Linked DNA regions of Homo sapiens. The protein of the gene in region 2 interacts with the protein of the main gene of each other region in a biochemical or structural test. Each region holds a gene or a part of one and is shown on either strand. Other genes may lie near its edges.

Region 1 (7,000 bases), on a different chromosome or scaffold from region 2:
GGCCTTACTAACAAGCTTGGCTTGCTGATTCCCTAGGCCTTATCTGATCCAAAGCTGCAAACTGGAAAGAGTTCAGTTTAAGAAGATAACCAAATACTTGGGGGTTATTTGTGGAGATAATGATTAGAATGTAAAAAGCCTTGACACTTTCAGTGAAGTTCACTGTAGTGTTGTGGTTAAAATCCCAGCCCCTGCTGTGAGACAGCCCTGGGCTCAAATTTTCTCTTTTCTACACTCATTAGTTGTACAACTCTGGGTTTTTGGAGTGTCTCCTCATCTATAAAGTGGGGGGATAATAGTACCCACCCCACAGCACTCTCGTGAAAATTAAATGAATAGCTGGGTGTGTTGGTGTGTGCCTGTCCCAGCTACTTGGGAGGCTGAGGTGGGAGGATCCCTTCAGTCCAGGAGGTTGAGGCTGCAGTGAGCTATGACTGTGCCACTGCACTCCAGCCTGGGTCACAGAGCGAGACACTGTCTATAAACACACACACACACACACACACACACACACACACACACACGCACACACGCACACACACTGAATGCTTGACAACTGTCTGGTAGAGTCACTTGTCATCTCCTGAACCTACTTTCCCACCCGTGATAGGAGGAAGCTGGGCTCCAGATGGTCCCAGTGTTCATCCTGAGCTGCAGAGCTCTGCTCTGTCCCTGATGCTCTGAGCCCTGCCCATCAATCAGGCCAAGATCAGTTCTGTGCTGGGCTGTATGGCCTGGAGCAAAGAGTTAGGGAGACGTGGGGCCCAGAGTACCTGGGTGACCCTGTCTTGCCTTTTCTTCTGCAGATATTGCTGTGGGAGCTCCGTTTGAAGGCTTGGGCAAAGTGTACATCTATCACAGTAGCTCTAAGGGGCTCCTTAGACAGCCCCAGCAGGTACAGAGAGACGGGGATGGGTCTGCTGCCCCCACCAGCCGAGATGGGCCTTCCTTGCTTTCCTTCACCCAACCCTTCCCTGTAGCCCCCTGGGCCCTGCTCCCCAGAGCCTGCCCCCACCACTTTCCCCTGCCCCCAGGTAATCCATGGAGAGAAGCTGGGACTGCCTGGGTTGGCCACCTTCGGCTATTCCCTCAGTGGGCAGATGGATGTGGATGAGAACTTCTACCCAGACCTTCTAGTGGGAAGCCTGTCAGACCACATTGTGCTGCTGCGGTGAGCCAGGAGGCCAGTGAATAAGGGTCTTTCTCTTCTTCATCTTTGTCTGCACAGATTCCCATCTGTGTCCATGTTTGCGCTAGCTCCTTGGAAGCCTGGGCCCCAACTCTGGCCTGGGGCAGGCAGGAGGCACTGATATCTGTCTGGCTCTGTTGTCTCTGCAGGGCCCGGCCCGTCATCAACATCGTCCACAAGACCTTGGTGCCCAGGCCAGCTGTGCTGGACCCTGCACTTTGCACGGCCACCTCTTGGTGAGATTGTTCTGCCCACCTACTCCTCATTTATTTATAGGGAGGCTAGGAGGGGCTGCAGCTCCCAAACCCCTCCCCTGGCCTCCTGACATCCCACCTTTAGAAATTTGATTCTTGGGGCCAGCATTTGCCCTCTCTACCCAACCTCATTAAAAAGCAAAATTCCTTGTAAGAGGTAATGGATGAAGTCGGGGGCAGTAGAGTATAGTGGTTCAAGGTGGGAGCTCTGGACGGCCTGGTTCAAATCCCAGCTATGCCAGTGCAGGGGTGGGGATGGGCTCTGGAAAGGGGGACGCATTTAAGTGGATGGATATGGAGGAGAGTCTCCTCAGGTGAATTATTAATCCCTCTTAGGCTCAGATTTCTTGCTTGTAGAACAGAATTGATAATAACTGATTCACAGGGTTGTTGTGATAATTAAATGAGAAAATATACAGAAAGTCCTTAGCACAGCACTGTGTATACCCTAAGTGCTCAAAAAATGTTAGTTGCTAAGAAAGTGACAGTAATGATGGCGATGACCCCAAGGTCTTTAAGTGAATGAGGATTTTGGATCAGAAGACAAAGGCAGACAGAGCAGGGAAATGGGGTGGTTGGTGCAAGGAGACCTGGACTGGGGATTGGCCGACCTAGGTTCAAGACTGGGCTGGGCCACCAACTGACTGAGGACTTCAGACAAGTCCTTCTGGGCCCTAGGCCTCAGTTTCCCCATTAGTGACCTCTAACCCTGTTCTCTTTGGCTTTAAGGGGAGTGGAAGGGAAGGGGTCAGGGACACCACAGACCTGCTTTGTGGACTCCCCAGTTTTGTCCCTGCCTCTCTCCAGAAGGGCCTCGGTTTCCTTTTGCCCAGTACAGAGGCGAGAGCTAGGGCCTGGACGTGTGTGTCCCACTGTGACCCGCCCTCCTGTACATCCCTCCAACAGTGTGCAAGTGGAGCTGTGCTTTGCTTACAACCAGAGTGCCGGGAACCCCAACTACAGGCGAAACATCAGTGAGTGCTGGGGTGCAGCGTAAAAGGGGTACGCTCCCCTGTCCCCTTGCTGACCACCCTGTCTACCTGTAGCCCTGGCCTACACTCTGGAGGCTGACAGGGACCGCCGGCCGCCCCGGCTCCGCTTTGCCGGCAGTGAGTCCGCTGTCTTCCACGGCTTCTTCTCCATGCCCGAGATGCGCTGCCAGAAGCTGGAGCTGCTCCTGATGGTGAGGGAGGAGCAAGGGTCAGGATGAGGGCTCCCAGGTCCCTGGAGGAGGTGGCCAGTGTCCCCCTAGATCAAGGGTGAGGGACGGGGGTCTCCCCAGAGACAGAGGTTGGGGACATCGGTTTGGAAGGCTATTGGTGTGTAGGAGTACAGTGTACAGCACCCACACATGAGGAGTGATGGAGACCCTTGGGGTGGGGATGGGGCCAAAGGGCTTATTACCTCCAAGGAAAGTGAGGAGTGTGGGAGCTCTTGGCTCAGCCCACCTCTGGGAAAAGGGGTCCCTGAGTAGGGAGCAAGGTCAGTCCCTCTCTGGGACATCAGGGTGGAAGGGGAGAGCTCAACCTGGAGACCCTGTGGATGGGGAGGTGAAGGGACTTTTGAGGAGGAGAAGCCCTGTCTCTCCTCTTGGAGGGTCAGGATAGTAGGAAGTCGCAATTTGGCGACCGGACTGGAGGGAGTTCAGCCTAACTGTCAGGTTTTCAGGGTGGGGGGCGGGTCCAGCTCTTCTCTGGGGTTCAGGGTGGTGTGAGGATTCAGCTGGGGCAGGGAGCAGTGCAGGGCCGGGCTCAGCTCACCCTCTCTCCCCAGGACAACCTCCGTGACAAACTCCGCCCCATCATCATCTCCATGAACTACTCTTTACCTTTGCGGATGCCCGATCGCCCCCGGCTGGGGCTGCGGTCCCTGGACGCCTACCCGATCCTCAACCAGGCACAGGCTCTGGAGAACCACACTGAGGTGAGTGGGGCTGGCGCCTGGACTGGAAGACCAGGGGCCAGAAGGGCGGTGGGGCGAGAGGGCACTGGGGGGGGTGGTGCGGCCTTCACACCTCCGGCCACCCCCCAGGTCCAGTTCCAGAAGGAGTGCGGGCCTGACAACAAGTGTGAGAGCAACTTGCAGATGCGGGCAGCCTTCGTGTCAGAGCAGCAGCAGAAGCTGAGCAGGTGGCTGTGGGCCGCCGGCCGCGTTAATCGGCCAAGGGTGGGACGGGGCCTCATTAACTGGCAGGGTGGGGGCGGGGCCTCATGGCAAGGCGAGCCCAGGGACAGGGCTTTAGCGGGAACAGGTGGGATGGTCAGAAACGGGGCTTTCTCCTCCAGGTGCGACTAGAGGACGGGGCCTGGCTGTCCCAAGATGGGCTTTTCTCACCTAGGAGACCCCAGGGGCGGGGCCTAGTTGATCCGGGAGTGCCCTGGGGGCGGGGCTCTTGGCTGAGTCCTGGGCTCCTGCTCTCAGGCTCCAGTACAGCAGAGACGTCCGGAAATTGCTCCTGAGCATCAACGTGACGAACACCCGGACCTCGGAGCGCTCCGGGGAGGACGCCCACGAGGCGCTGCTCACCCTGGTGGTGCCTCCCGCCCTGCTGCTGTCCTCAGTGCGCCCCGTGAGTGCCCGCCGGCCGGCTCAGAGCCCAAGCAGGGCTCCCCGCGTCTTTGCATCCCCATATCCATGTCCTGTGCAGGTGTTGTCGTCTGCCACGTGCCCACCTCCTCTGGTCTGGGCCTTCTTGGGGGCCTTAGCGTCTCTGCTGCTTGGAGAATCCGGCTCTCAAGCTCTAGGGCTTCTGACCTTGCACCACAGAGGAGGGAGGACAAGCCCTACTTTGACCCGACCCTGACCTTATTCGCCTTCTTTCCTCAGCCCGGGGCCTGCCAAGCTAATGAGACCATCTTTTGCGAGCTGGGGAACCCCTTCAAACGGAACCAGAGGGTGAGCACCGGCCACATCCTCCCAGTCCTCCTGGGTCCCTGGCTGCACCTCTGATGAGCTCCTTGTCCTTCCAGCCTCTGCCTGCCTGCTTTCTGGGCTCCCTCGAAGTGGAGAGCCACAGTGCGGGAGGAGAGACTCAGTAGAGGGTGAGAAGAGGCCCAGAAACTAAGACAAATGGGGCTGCTAGGGAGCTGTGCACAAAGCTAGAGCAGGTGGAGGGGAGGAAACCAGTTTGACCAAGCACCAACTGTGTGCCAGCCCCTGAGCCCAACACTGTGCTTCTTTGATATGATATAATTCTCACAGCCTTCTGAGGAGGTAGATGCTCTTTTACAGAAGAGGAAACACACACTTAGAAAGTTTCAGTTACCTGCTCAAGGTTATGTAGCTCAAAAGTAGCAGAGATGTGACCTGATGGAGAGAAAGGGGGAAAGGGAGGCAGAGGTGGGGTGGGGAGGTAGAGACCCCTCACCCAGAATAGGAGGAGGAGGAGAAGGCCAGAAAGCCAACTAGAATAGTGTGCATCCCCTCCTTCCCCATGACATCACCCCCGCCAGGCCCCATATGCCACTCTCTGCCTCCCTGACCCTTGTGGCAGATGGAGCTGCTCATCGCCTTTGAGGTCATCGGGGTGACCCTGCACACAAGGGACCTTCAGGTGCAGCTGCAGCTCTCCACGTGAGTGACCTCGAAAAGCCAGTCTGGGTCAGGGCTGAGGTATCTTGGATCACCTTCCTAACCCCTGCATTTCCTCCCAAGGTCGAGTCACCAGGACAACCTGTGGCCCATGATCCTCACTCTGCTGGTGGACTATACACTCCAGACCTCGCTTAGCATGTGGGTACCGCTCTCCACCACCCCCACCCCAGCCTGCTGTGCCTAAGCTAGGGTTCCCTATCCCCAAGCTATCTCCCAAACTCCTCTGACCCCTCTCTTGGCCCAGTGTCCTCAGGCCTCCACTTTCCCTGGATCATCCTTTTCTTAACAACAACAATCACTATCGTTACCGTTACTATTCCCCCTGTAAAGCAGGCAGAAATGGAGGAATCAGCAACCCCGGGGCTAAGGTGTTGTCCCTACCATTTTATAAGAGCTCATTGTGCTAAGGATTTTATATACATCATCTCAATGACTTCTCACAGCAGCCCTGTGATACAACAGCTATGATTAAGTCCATTTTACAGATGAGGAGACTGAGGCTCAGAGAGGATAAATAGCTTGCTTGAGTCCATAAAGCTTGTAAATGCAGAGCTGAGGTTTCTATTGAGGTGACTGATGTCAGAGGGGCTATAGTTAGCCAGCTTTGGTGCCCACCCCCCTCTGCCAGGGCCCTGGTCTCTTGTCCCCCGTGACTCCAGCATCCTTCTTACCCCTAGGGTAAATCACCGGCTACAAAGCTTCTTTGGGGGGACAGTGATGGGTGAGTCTGGCATGAAAACTGTGGAGGATGTAGGAAGCCCCCTCAAGTATGAATTCCAGGTAAGGGGCTCGCCAGAGTCCTGGGCTGGGGACTTCTAGGAAGGATTATTTTTATTTTCTCTGGGGTCTGAAGGTGGGAGGGTTGGGGGTTGGTAAGATGGAGGTGGTTTTCCAGGAGATAATGACTATGACACATCTTGTGCCCACAGGTGGGCCCAATGGGGGAGGGGCTGGTGGGCCTGGGGACCCTGGTCCTAGGTCTGGAGTGGCCCTACGAAGTCAGCAATGGCAAGTGGCTGCTGTATCCCACGGAGATCACCGTCCATGGCAATGGGTCCTGGCCCTGCCGACCACCTGGAGACCTTATCAACCCTCTCAACCTCACTCTTTCTGTAAGGACACTATCAGGGATATTTCATTTGCATGCTACAGGGCAGAAAGGCCAGTGTCTTCCCCTCCCTCCCCTCATACCCCTTTGGCAAGCTGTCTCTCCTACCCTTTCCTTTCCTGCAACCCTGCTCCCAATTCTTCCTCTGCCCTGCCAGCAAATCTCCTATTTCCTCTCCAGGACCCTGGGGACAGGCCATCATCCCCACAGCGCAGGCGGCGACAGCTGGATCCAGGGGGAGGCCAGGGCCCCCCACCTGTCACTCTGGCTGCTGCCAAAAAAGCCAAGTCTGAGACTGTGCTGGTGAGTGGCCAGGGCGAGGTTGGAGGGGATTGCATCCACCCCATCACAGGGTGCCTGGGCACCAGGGGCACACAAAGCAAGGGAGACCTCAGTGTGATGAGGTGATGAGGCCCCTGCTCTTGGGAGCCTCCAGACAGAGCAGGGAGCCTCATCTCCTGCCCTCAGAGGGTTCTCCACTCTGATGGGGGAGGATTGAAGACAAGGGACCAAAGGAGGAGGCACTGGCTCTGCTCCAAGGAACCCCAGCCTGTTGGGGGCGATAGAGCTGCTCAGAGCTTTGGCCGGCAGGAGGCGGTGTCGGGCAGGGCAATGGTGGGTGGTGCGTGTGCCCTCTGCAGGAAAGGAGAGGAGAGCGGGCCTGGCAAGCCGGTTGAAGCCTAGCTGGGTGGAGAGTGGGAGGTGGTGTCCCAGGGGCAGGGAGCTGGCTGGGAAGCAGGTGTAGGCGGTTGGGCCCTGTTTACACAAGCAGGGGCCAGATTCCATGTTATCCATGTGCCTGGCATTATATGAGCTTGGCCCAAAGAGTGTGTCTGAAATGCATAGCTGTGAGGT
Region 2 (7,115 bases):
TGCTGTATCAAGCAAAGTCAGTTTTAGGAGAAATAGCCTTTCAGTGGTAGTAAGTTTAAAAAAGATGACTTCCTGAAGCGGAAGCTTGTGAGACATTTAAGATGACTTTGCGCATGTTAGAGTTAAAAACATCCCAAGGTTGTAAACTGATTTCCTGCAAAGATCTTAACAACAACAACAACAACAAACTAGGCTGCCTGCCACGGGTGTCTGAAGTATCATCTTGGCTCAAGCTGGGAGAATGGATAAAGGTTACACTGTTCATTTCTGCCCTTCACACAGAAAAGAAGATAATTTTATAGGTAAAATTCGTGCATATCTTGATTCTAGCATACTGCTGATTCCTGTAGTTTCTGGGGTCAGTACTCTCAACTATTGAGGTGGAACAAAAATAAGTAGACTTCATTTCTTGAGGAAGGGGATCTGGAGAAGTAGTTCTGCGCTAGAGCAGAAAATGCCTTCAGTCTTGTGGCATGGGCTGGATGCTGTTCTGAGGATAATGCATTTCCAAGGGAGATATTTTTGGCAAATAGCTTTTTTTTCTTTCTTTTCAAAATTCTCTGTTTTATTATCAGTTCTCACAAAAGAGTCGGAAAGGTTAGAGGTAGACTGAACTGAATGGCAAAAACATTTTGCGCTCTCTTTACGTTTCACTGCTGTAAAATATTTATAGTATAAAGGGCCTGTATTGCACTGAATTTCTCTCATTTGTAGCTAGTTGCCCTTTCAATGTTCCAAAAAAAAAGGCTGTAAATAACTTATTTTATTTATTCAATTAATTTTTTTTTTTTAATTTTTTGAGATATAGTTTCCCTCTGGTCACCCAGGCTGGAGTGAAATGATGCAATCTCGGCTTACTGCAATTTCTGCCTCCCGGGTTCAAGCAATTCTAGTGCCTCAGCCTCCTGAGTAGCTGGGACTGCAGGCACGTGCTACCATGCCCGGCTAATTTTTGTGTTTTTAGTAGATATGGGGTTTCACAGTGTTGGCCAGCCTAGTCTCAAACTCCTGACCTCAGGTGATGTGCCCACCTTGACCTCCAAAAGTGCTGGGATTACAGGCGTGAGGCACCATGCCTGGCCAACTTAGTTATTTAAAGATAATCAATTAGTATATTTTATAAGCTAGACTTAGGAAAACGGTTTTCAGCTGGGCATGGTGGCTCACACCTGTAATCCCAGCACTTTGGGAGGCCGAGGCAGGTGGATCACGAGGTCAGGAGTTCAAGACCAGCCTGGCCAAGATGGCGAAACTCCGTCTCTACTTAAAAATACAAAAATTAGCCAGGCGTGATGGCAGCCTCCTGTAATCCCAGCTACTCGGGAGGCTGAGGCAAGAGAATCACTTGAACCTGGGAGGCGGAGGTTGCAGTGAGCCGAGATGGTGCCACTGCACTCCAGCCTGGGTGACAGAGCGAGACTCCATCTCAAAAAAAAAAAAACCCCCCCACACACAAAACCTGTTTTCTTGAATCATGGTTGTTTTGTTACTGATAGGTTCAATAAGTAAATATATTTATTGTCTGTTGTATTCTTTATTAGGCATTATAAACACACCGCCACTTTTTAATTTTTATTTCATTAATGTTTCCAATTTTTTTTTTTTTTTTTTTTTTTAAGACAGAGGCTCGCTCTGTCATCCAGGCTGGAGTGGAGTGGTGCAGTCTTACCCCACTGCAACCTCCACCTCCTGGGCTCAGCCTTGTAAATAGCTGGGACTACAGGCATGCACCACCATGCCTGGCTAATTTTTGTATTTTTTTTGGTAAAGACAGAGTTTTGCCATGTTTCTCAGTCTGGTCAAGCACTCCTCCCGCCTCGGCCTCCCAAAGTGTTGGGATTACAGGCATGAGCCACCATGCCTGGCCTATTTCTAATATTTTGGTCCACATTGGTGTTAGACCAACTGTCCACATTAAGTTTTCTTGGAAAAGATGAAGTAAATATTGCAACTGGCCTATGTATTTTTTTCCCTATTTAGTATATTTCTTTGACTAGTTCAACTGATAGAATTCCAAGACTTAAAAAAGTCAGGCTCTAAGGCTGGGTCCAGAGGCTCATGCCTGTAATTCCAGCACTGTGGGAGGCCAAGGCTAGTGGATCACTTGAGCCCAGGAGTTCAAGACCAGCTTGAGCAACATAGTGAGACCTTGTCTCTCTATAAAAATACAAAAATTAACTGGGGATTGTGGCGCATGTCTGTAGTCCCAGCTATGAGGAAGAGTGAGGTGGGAGGATTGCTTGAGCCCAGGAGGTTGAGGCTGCAGTGAGCTGTGAGTTTGACACTGTGCTTCATTCTGGGTGACAGAGCAAGAACCATGTTCAAAAATAAAAATAAAAAGTCAGAGTCCGGGTGCTGCGGCTCATGCCTGTAATCCCAGCACTTTGGGAAGCCGAGGCGAGAGGATCACTTGAGGTCAGGAGTTCGAGACCAGCCTGACTAACACAGTGAAACCCCGTCTCTACTAAAAATACAAAAATTAGCCGGGCATGGTGGCGGTGGCCTGTAATCCCAGCTACATGGGAGGTTGAGGCAGGAGAATCACTTGAACCCGGGAGGTGGAGGTTGTAATGAGCCAAGATTGCACAACTGCACTGCATCCTGGGCGACAGAGTGATACTTCATCTCAAAAAAAAAAAAAGAAAAAAAAAGTTAGGCTTCCTTTTCTGTTTTTTTTTTTTTTTCTTTCTTCTCTTTTTTTTTTTTTTTTTAAGAGATGGAGGCTTGCTCTATTGCCCATGCTGGAGTGCAGTGGTGCAATCTCGGCTCACTGCCACCTTTGCCTCCTGGGTTCTAGCAATTCTCCTGCCTCAGCCTCCCGAGTAGCTGGGACTACAGGCGCACACCGCCACGCCCCGCTAATTGTTCTTTTGTATTTTAGTAGAGACGGGGTTTCACCATGTTGGCCAGCCTGGTCTCGAACTCCTGAGCTCAGGCAATCCGCCCGCCTCGGCCTCCCAAAGTGCTAGGATTATAGGCGTGAACCACCGTGGCTGGCCACTTACTTTTCTTTCTATTGAATTTGAATGAATAATTTGGAAGACAGTATCTTTACTTCATACCAGGAATGCTGCCAGTGAAATTTCTTGTTTGGCAGTTCATTATCTACCTATATATTTAATTTTGCTATTGTTTATAGAGTTCTTAAGATATGATTAAATGCTAGCTGGTTAAGAAATCATTTAGAAATGAAACAGAATTGGTTGTTACTCCAAGTTAATAAGTTGCTTGTCAACATAAATCCTACCTGGTACCCAGTTTTCTTAGGAACCTTGCTTCCATGTTTATCCTTTTCTGCTTAGTATTCTAAGTACTCCTTTTTTACCTTACAATTTAGTCTTAAAACACAACACAGTCAAGTCTTTCTTTTGTAACCTGTGAGATACCTTCTAGCCTTTGTGCTGTTTTTCTTCTCTTTTTGCTGCCTGCCTTCCTGACTGAGAGTGGATTTCCTCACTAAGGCTCTGCCCTCTGATTTTTCACTCTCTTTTCTTTTTTGGTTTTACTAGTGAAATTTTGTCTTTAATGTCTCTTTCTTTTATGTCTTTACCGATCACTCATAGATTTTTTTTTCCATATGTATCCAGTTCCAACCTTTCACCTAATGTGAACCCCCAACTCTCAGTTGCTCAGCCAGCCCTTCAAGACTAGGAGTTCAAAACCAAACTTGCATCTTCCTTCCCAAACCAGCTTTCCTCTTGCAGTTTTCTGCAGCAGGATCCTTCTGCTGTTTAACTTTTGCCTCCTCCCTTGTTTCCTAGCACCCAATAGTTGGAAGATAGTCTGTCTTCAAAATTTTAAACTACATTTATGTCCAAACCAGTGGCTTTTCCTTTTAAAAAAATTTAAAGATAATATGTGCAAATCATTTTTTTAAAATTCAAACAGTATTTAAGAGTTTCAGTGAAACATGCATTTTCCTTCTACCCTGGTACTTAGTTTTACTCCCCAAGGGCAATCACTTTTTACTGGTTTTTAGAAATATATCCTTCCTGAGATACTTATGAATATCCAAAAGTGTGTGTGTTGTGTATATCACCTTTTATATATCCTGTCTCTTTACGTGCATGCATTTTACCGTATAAACTGTTTTCTACCCTGCTTTTTCTATTTGACCTATTTTGGAAATGTCATTTTATTTAGAACTTCCTCATTTATTTTAACAGCTGCATAATTAGCAGTAAAACTTATGTAAGCAGTCCCTTGTGAAGGGCTGTGTCTTTTTGCGATTATATCCGGTGCTATAGTGTACATCCTTGTGTGTGCATCTTGGTGTGCCTGTGCTACGTATTTCTGTAGGATAAATCTGTAAAAGTGGAATCACTAGGTCAGAGGGTATGATCCATTTTCTTTACTTATTTATTTTATTTATTTATTCATTTATTTTTGAGACAGAGTCTTGCTCTGTCGCCCAGGCTGGAGTGCAGTGGCATGATCTTGGCTTACTGCAAGCTCCGCCTCCCGGGTTCACACCATTCTCCTGCCTCAGCCTCCGGAGTAGCTGGGACTACAGGCGCCCGCCACCCACGCCTGGCTAATTTTTTTGTATTTTTAGTAGAGACGGGGTTTCACCATGTTAGCCAGGATGGTCTCGATCTCCTGACCTTGTGATCCACCCATCTCAGCCTCCCAAAGTGCTGGGATTACAGGTGTGAGCCACCGCGCCCGGCCCCATTTTATTATCTTTATTTGCTTGGATCCTTCTTAGCTTCTTCAATGTTAAAGATATTGACAGTTTTCCTCTTACTGAAATTTATAAATCCATTGACTCCCTTGATATTATTGCCCTGGCCTGACTGATTCTTCTCTCTCCTTTCTCTTCTCACCCCATGTTGAGGTCCCCAAGGTCACACCCAGTTTTGATGACTCACCAGCATAGAGTTGTACTTGTGCCTATGATTTATTGCGGTGAAAGGATATAGAGCAAAATTGCAAACGGAAAGGCACCTGGGGTGAATTCCAGGGGAAATCCAGTGCAAGTTCCAAGGTCGCCTCCCAGTGGAGTCACATAGGATGTGCTTACATCCTCCAGCAAGGAGTTGTGACAACACTTGTGAAATGTGGACTGCCAGGGAAGCTCATCAGAGCCTCAGTGCCTAGGGTTTTTACTGGAGGCTGGTCACATAAGCACCCTCACACATATCAAAAAATTCTGGTCCCCCAGAAGGAAAGCAGGTGTTTAGCATAACCATATTATTTGCATGAACAGTTCAGGTACAGGAAATCCCCGTTACCAGTTAGGTTGGTGGGTGCCCTTCCCAAATCCCAAGTTCCCAGACACCAGCCAGGGGCCTGCCTCGTAAGGAGGCCTTTCCAGGACAGCAGTCAGGCCTGCCAATGTTAATTCTTTTCTGCATACCTCCTAATTTTAGAAACCACCGAGCCTTTGCTGCCTGACCTGTCCTGCTTTTCGATTTCTTTATCTACTTTGATATCTTTACAAATGATCTTTACCCTGACTTTTAAATGTGTGCTCTGGCCATTCACCTAGCGTGTGGTTCTGAGTCTCCAAGTCTTAGCAGATTTGCTCTCAGATGCTCTGCCAACGCTTCACACCAAGTATTACAAACTAAACTCGTCATCTTCCTCCTGAAACCTGTCTCCCAGGCCAGGCGCGGTGGCTCACACCTGTAATCCCAGTACTTTGGGAGGCCGAGGTGGGTGGATCACCTGAGGTCAGGAGTTCGAGACCAGCCTGGCCAACTTGGTAAAACCCCATCTCTACGAAAAATACAAAAAAATTAGCCAGGCGTGGTGGCAGGCACCTGTAATCCCAGCTATTCAGGAGGCTGAGGCAGGAGAATCGCTTGAACCCGGGAGGCGGAGATTGCAGTAAGCCGAGATCACGCCATTGCACTCCAGCCTGGGCAACAAAAGTGAAACTCCATCTCAAGAAAAACAAAAAACAAAAAACAAAAAACCTGTTTTCTCCCCAGCTTTGTCATGTATTTAGTGGCCTTATGTAGACAGTTTCCTTTGAAACATCTCTTGGACTTCTCTGCTCTTCCAGGGCCATTGCCACTGACCTGGAATGTGTCCTTATCGTTTCACGCCAGGCTTATGGCAGCAGTCAGTCACCCAGATGACCTCCTGACCTCTGGCTTATTTCACCCCCACTGGACTGTTGTTCCTAAACACTTCTTTCGTATGTCACTCTAAAATCTGACCCTGGCTGTACCTTTCTTTAACTACTCCCTGACTGCGTGCTGAGAGAAGATGGGTCTTGTCTTTTCCTGCCTCTCTGCTTTTGTAAACTGCCATTTCTACCTGAAGTGGCAACTGAAATCATATCTTCTTCATAAACTGTCTTTGGCTACCTCAGTTAGAATTCCTTATCCCATTTTCCTGAAGCATTTCTTTGACTCTTCTTTACTGCTCCCCCACCCTTTTTTTTTTCTTTGAGACTGAATTTTGCTTGTTGCCCAGGCTGGAGTGCAATGGCCCGATCTCGGCTCATTGCAACCTCCGCCTCCTGGGTTCAAGTGATTCTCCTGCCTCAGCCTCCTGAGTAGCTGGGATTACAGTCATGTGCCACCATGCCCGGCTAATTTTGTATTTTTAGTAGAGATGGGGTTTCTCCACGTTGGTCAGGCTGGTCTTCAACTCCCAACCTCAAGTGATCTGCCCACCTTCGCCTCCCAAAATGCTGGGATTACAGGTGTTAGCCACTGCGCCTGACCCCCATTTTTTTTTTTTTTAAAGATGTTGAATTGGTCAGGGTTTGTAGTTACAAGCAACAGAAGCCAACTCTTTAAGCAGAAAAGGAATTTGCTAAATGATAGTGCAGAGTTCTCAGAATCTCTAGCAGGATGAAGAACCAGGCTTGGAGAATAGGTAGCCACAGATACACAAGCATACTGTAGGACGGTTCCCATGAAGAGGCATCTGTTGTCACCACTGGACACAGATGGTACTGTGTCTCTGCTACTCTACCAATGCCACTGCTGTCTCTGACCCCAGATGTAGCTCCCTCTGACCCTGGATGCAGCTCCCTCTGACCCTCGATATAGCTGCCCCTGACCCCGGATGTAGCTGCCTTTGACCCCAGATGTAGCTTTCTCCAAACCCAGATATAGCGGCTGCCCCCTTGCCAGAGTGAATACTGCGTCATTGTG

Evidence for each region. Proteins that work in one complex are often made in the same cells at the same time.
Region 1: the proteins of LGALS8 (region 2) and ITGA3 form a complex in vitro, tested with the Homo sapiens proteins (one study listed by BioGRID).

Annotation. Positions count from the first base shown.
Region 1 is NC_000017.11:50,073,110-50,080,109, forward strand, and holds part of ITGA3 (integrin alpha-3 preproprotein), read left to right. Parts: intron 1-806; coding exon 807-895; intron 896-1,034; coding exon 1,035-1,171; intron 1,172-1,338; coding exon 1,339-1,425; intron 1,426-2,349; coding exon 2,350-2,417; intron 2,418-2,489; coding exon 2,490-2,626; intron 2,627-3,216; coding exon 3,217-3,366; intron 3,367-3,474; coding exon 3,475-3,572; intron 3,573-3,864; coding exon 3,865-4,012; intron 4,013-4,269; coding exon 4,270-4,338; intron 4,339-4,895; coding exon of another isoform or gene 4,896-4,936; coding exon 4,937-5,016; intron 5,017-5,097; coding exon 5,098-5,175; intron 5,176-5,714; coding exon 5,715-5,817; intron 5,818-5,966; coding exon 5,967-6,149; intron 6,150-6,325; coding exon 6,326-6,448; intron 6,449-7,000.
Region 2 is NC_000001.11:236,526,954-236,534,068, forward strand, and holds part of LGALS8 (galectin-8), read left to right. Parts: intron 1-7,115.